2 separate regions of the Homo sapiens genome follow, and region 1 is linked to region 2. The links come from fine-mapping of genetic effects on gene expression. A gene starts in region 2. The other region holds a variant in brackets. All regions are shown on one strand. Distances are between the middles of the regions.

Region 1 (2,924 bases), 220 kb before region 2:
CTAATAATTAAAATAAACTCTTTGAAGTTAAAGAAAAAAGAATGATAGAAATACACTCTCAAGAGATCCAGATACTTCTGTTAACATGGACTTTATAATAACTCTAATTAGTCGTCAAGGAGGAACTAGCAATTGCAAAAAAATATCCTGTAAAAATTCTAGAAGTCAAAGTAAATAACTGAAAAAAGTTAATGGGTAGCTTAATGGAATATTTGGTATGGCTAAAGAGAAAGTAATTTGGCATGTAGAGAATAAGGAAGTGTTTATATAGAATAAAAGAAACATGTAGAAAAGAATATAAGAAATATGTGAGACAAAGGTCTGACATATGTGTAGTTGAAGTTCCAGAAGAAGAAAGAGAATAGCGCAGAAGCAATGTTTGAGAATATAATGGCTGAGCAATTTCTAAACTAATTAGAGAATTCAAGCCACATATTGGAGAAGTGCAAAGGACTCAGAGCAGGATAAGTATCAAGAAAAACATATGTAGGCAAATAATAATAAAACTGCTGAAACCCATAGCAAAAAACCAAACCAATCAACAAACAAAAAAGAAAAACATAAAATTAGATCAAATAAAGAGATGTATTACTGTCAAATAGGCCACAATAAATCTGATAGTTGACTTTTTAACTATGGAAGGGCAGGTGTGGTGGCTCACACCTGTAATTTCAGCACTTTCAGAGGCCAAGGCAGGAGTATTGCTTGAGCCCAGGAGTTTGGGAATAGCCTGGGCAACATAATGGGACCCTGTCTCTACAAAAAAATACAAAAATTAGCCAGACATGGTGGCATGTATCTCTAGTCTTAGCTATTCCAGAGGCTGAGGCAGGAAGCTCTCTTGAGCCAGGGAGATTGAGGCTACAGTGAGCCATGATCACACTGCTGCACTCCAGCCTGGGCAGCAGAGTGAGACCCTGTTTCAAACAGATAACCAACCAACCAAAACCAAACCAAAACAACAACAACAAAAACAATGGAAGGCAGAAGACATTGAAACTATAACTCAAAGTTCTAAAAAGTATTATATGTAATATATAAATCAGCCACAAAATTCTATTCTAAAAAATATATCCTTCAAAAACGAATGTAGGCAGGGTGCAGTGGCTCACGCCTGTAATTCCAGCACTTTGGGAGGCTGAGCTGGGTGGATCATCTGAGGTCAGAGTTTGAGACCAGCCTGGCCAACATGGTGAGCTCCTGTCTCTACTAAAAATACTAAAATTAGCTGGGTGTGGTGGCAGGCACCTGTAATCCCATCTACTTGGGAGGCTGAGGCAGAAGAATCATTTGAACCTGGGAGGTGGAGGTTGAAGTGAGCTGAGATCACACCACTGCATTCCAGCCTGGGTGACAGAGCAAGATTCCATCTCAAAAAAAAAAAAAAAATC[G/A]TAAAATAAATATTTTAAGATAAACAAAGACTGAAAGAATTTATCTTCAGGAGATCTGTACTACAAGAACCACTAATGAAGTACTTCACACAGAAGGAAAATAATCCCTATTGAAAGCATAAAAATGCAGAAAGAAATAAAAAGCTATAAGAGTAAACATATGGATGTATCCAAATGAATATTGATTGTATTAACCAATGCTAACTATATGCTGCTGGTTTAAAAGTATATAACAAAACAGCACAAAGTATGAGAGAGAATTTATGGAATTCAATTATTCTATGGTTCTATTGTCTAAGAAATGGTAAAAATACTATTAGACTTAAAAAAATTAAGATTGCTTATTGTAATCATAGAATAACCTCTAGTAGTAAAAAGAATGTGTAACTAACTAGTGAATAGAGAGGAATAAAGATAACAGCAACCACACAATCCAAAATAATGCAAGAAAAAGAAAACAATAGTATAGATGATTTAACTCAGATCAATCATTACATTAAATGTGAGCAGATGAATGACACCAATTAAATGACAAAGATAGTAAGACTGGATGCAAAGATAAATATTTTGCTCTGCTACTCAGAGGTTAAATATAAGCACAGTGAAAGGTCGAATGAAAAAGGATTGAAGAAGATATGTCATGCAAACAGCAACCAGAAGAAAGCTGATATAATGAAATTAACATCAGAAAAACTGGACTACAAGACAAAAAAGCATTATAGGTGATAAAGAGAGATAAGTAATAATGGTAAAAGTTTCAATCTTTAAGGAAGATATAATAATTTCCATATTATATGTATCAAATGGAATAGCTTCAGAATATATAAAGCAAGCATTGACAGTACTAAATGGACAAAACAACAATTAAAGTGGAAGACTTTAACATAACATTTCTAAGTAACAGATTGAGCAGAGAGAAGAATATGGAAGATTTGAGCAATAGCAAACATTATCTAACATATAAATATGTATTTACACATGGAAGACTGCACTCAGCAACTGAAGAAAACTTATATAAAACATTTTCCATAGCTTGGCCGGCTCAACACATTTTATCAGATAGAAAAGCAGATGAACATCAGATTGAATATCAGCATGTATTCAGTGAGCACAATTGGATTATTACTAGAAATTAATGAAAAAAATGTCAACTAGAAAATTTCTAAGTGATTGGAAATTGAGCAGTTCTATCATGAATAATCCATGGGTTAAAAGAAGCATTACCACAGACATTAGAAAACATTTTGAACTGAATGCTGATAAAAATATGACATATTAAAATTTGTGGAATGCATATAAAGCCCTGTTTAGAGATAAACTTTTGAATAAATTTATTATAGAAGAAAGCTAAAAATCAACAATTCATCTTTATAAGATAGGAAAAGAACAGAATATTAAACTAAAAAAGTGGAAAGAAGAAAATAATGAGGATAAGAATAGAAATTAATAAAATAGAAAACAAGTTTATAAGAAATTTTAAAAAGCCAAAATTTAATTTTATAGAAGAGTAATAAGTTTGATAAATCTTTGGTG
Region 2 (2,924 bases):
AAAGATAAACTGAGAGGTACAGGGTTAGAAGCTGGAAACAACCGGGAAAATTGACCTCCACTGGAATATTTATCCAGAGTCTAGTTCCAAAGCTAAAATGCAAAGGTTCTTGGATTTCTTCTATTAAGAACAGTAATAATGTCTTGCTTGCCTAATCTCATTTGATAATTTCTCCTTTCTCCGGGCTTAATGCATCCCTCACATATTTATATGCTCTGGCTTATATATCTTTATTTCTTGTAAATTTAGTTTCTCAACACCTACATATGTTCCTTGAAGGTGATGGGTATGTCTTTTATTTCTTTTATGTCATCCTTTCTGCCCAGTGCTTAGCACAGTGCAAGGCACCTGTTGCCCAATAATTATAAACAATTGACTCACTTGTATTGTATAGAACATCCATCCTGATTCTAGGGAGACTCAAGGTGGCAAATACATTAGATTGTATAGAACTCTCTGAGGTCATTAAGATCTTGGCAAGTGTGAGGGTGGCACAAAAGTTCATCGATAATTTTCCTTAAAATGCATGTTCAACTGGGGCTATCATATTCCCTGCAAAGCTGGCTTAAAGCTAATAATACCACCATCTGCTTTTATGTAGCTCTTTGCAATTTGGAGCTTCATTAATAATACATTACTCATTTTAGTGTCACTAAACCCTGTACACTGGTCAGGGTAAAGCCCTTTTCTCAAATGAGAAAATTGGAGTGCACAGAGATAAAGGACTATATGCACATTTACAAAATTATTGAGTGGCAGAACCACTCACAAAAGGCAGAAGCAAGCCTTTTTTCATCCAAAGGTAGAGTACTTCCCATTCCTCTGCACTGCTTAGTAGACTATTTTTCAACATGGTAAAACTCTCTGGGACAAGAGGAACCTGAAGATGTGGCCCCTTAACAAGAGATGTGGAGAAATTAGGAAAGGACATGCTTTCTTAATTCAAATTACAATGTATCACAAATTCATTTATCCAAAATGGTTTTCTAACCTGGACTTTACCTGGGCAACATTCTAATAATCTCCTTCCAGAGTATGGGAAAAGAAACCGAATCTGAGAAGGGGATAAGAATACTCCCTATTCAGTCAAAAGAAAGGGTTAAAATGTGATTGTTTAAAGATTTAAGGTGGAGAAGAGAGTCTTGAATTATCTAAATGTAAAAAAACTAGGGTAAAAGGCTGGATTTCCTTCGGAATGTCTTTTTCAGCTTATAGGGGAAAAGTTAAAGGGTGTGTGTCTGGGGGGAAGGGTTAGGGAGGGGAAAATAGAACCCTTTTCTTCTAACAGCCTTTCTTAAAAAATAAAAGAAAAGAGAAACAAATGTTTGTTTCTGTTATTAAGCCCCATCTATGCTTAAAAGTTAAATGAAATAGGGAAAGTTCAGGCACAGAGACGCGTGTTCTGATTTGGTTGTTTACCATCAATCAGACCGTTGCTTGGCAGACACTGGATGGTTATGAGCCTGAACAAGCTGAAAAGGGGCAGGAAAAGAAGTGGAGGCAGCATTCTTCCTATTTAAAGCTGCATCGCTTGAAAAAAGTTTTCGCAGACTGTGCTGGAGCTGGTGCTGAAAAAGGGGGTTTGCAGAGGCTGCCCTGGGGCTGGTGCTGAAAGAAGAGCCCACAGCTGACTTCATGGTGCTACAATAACCTCAGAATCTACTTTTCACTCTCAGGAGAACCCACATGTCTAATATTTAGACATGATGGCAAACTGGGCGGAAGCAAGACCTCTCCTCATTCTTATTGTTTTATTAGGGCAATTTGTCTCAATAAAAGCCCAGGAAGAAGACGAGGATGGTGAGTTTGCCATTTGCTTTGCTTGTAGTGTTTATTGCACGGTTTGGGAAATAGGTGGAATGTTAAGCCTCAGGAAGAGCGTGAAGAGGAGGTTCTGGTTTGAAGTTTGAGAAGGGGGCTGACGGATTTGCACCTGGAAAACGACTTGAAAGACAATTGGGATGTTTGTAAATCCGGAGCTTCTAGATCCACCGTTGGAGAGAGTACACTACTAAATTTTTCTGGGAAAGCCTACAATAAGTCCTTTTGGCTGAGTGTGAGAGTGGGACGTTTAAAATAAGAAAAGAGTGAATGCTTAAAACGGAGCACTAAAGGCATTTTAGTTAGAGGAGCTCTGTTCTGTGGGCTGGAGTTTTCAGAGCAAGGAAAAGTCGCGGCAGAAGCTGGGTAGGGTGGAGTCTTTTTGTACTGAACTTCAGCTGCTTCATAAAATTCTTTGTTTAGTAAAACCTCTGCAGCAACTCTGATAGCTTTGATTTTTCTTTGTCTTTGGCTCCTCATTCTTTCCTCTTTAACAATTTAAACTTCTTTTTACCATTTTCATTTGTGAAAATGTGATCACTTTTGCTTACTGGGAGGCAGTCTCGTTTGTTTCTCCATGACAGAGGCTGATAGAAGCCAGATTTCTTAAACAGTGGTATTTTCCCACCCTACTGGCTTGATTAACAGGACAGTGGTGGTTCCCGGTTGGATGGCGGAAGGCAGGAAATCAGCATGTCTTGTATATATCTTATTTGGCATGGAATATTTGCATGGACATTACCCCTTAGACCCAAGCTTTTTTTTTTTTTTTTTTTTAAAGATAAATCTTGCCTGGTGACCACATTTTTTTCCTATGCAATTTTCATATGTTACAGTTGGGTTATATGGTATGGTTAAGCAAAAATGCATAGCTGTTGTAGTATATAAGAAAATATTTAAATTGATTCCTCTATTAAATCTTTAATCTTGAGGGTTGCAATTTCAAATACAGACATGTACTCCTTTAAAATAAGCCACTGTAGATTTTCATCAACTCAACCATGTAACATCAAACTCAAGCTTTTAAAACTTTGGACATTCATTAACCTTTTCTATTACTTTCATATATAGACACATACATACAGGTATATATGTATATATAC

What was found.
Region 1: its variant is fine-mapped to the expression of COL5A2 in whole blood (TOPMed, PIP above 0.99).

What each region holds. Positions count from the first base shown.
Region 1 is chr2:189,397,718-189,400,641 of GRCh38, reverse strand. It overlaps a transcript of COL5A2 not described here. Among named protein-coding and RNA genes, the nearest start is that of WDR75, 42 kb to the left of the region's middle. The variant G/A (reference allele first, on the strand shown) is at 1,392.
Region 2 is chr2:189,178,384-189,181,307 of GRCh38, reverse strand. COL5A2 (collagen type V alpha 2 chain) reads left to right here and starts at 1,547. Exons shown (of 54, transcript NM_000393.5): 1 at 1,547-1,800. The coding sequence starts at 1,704.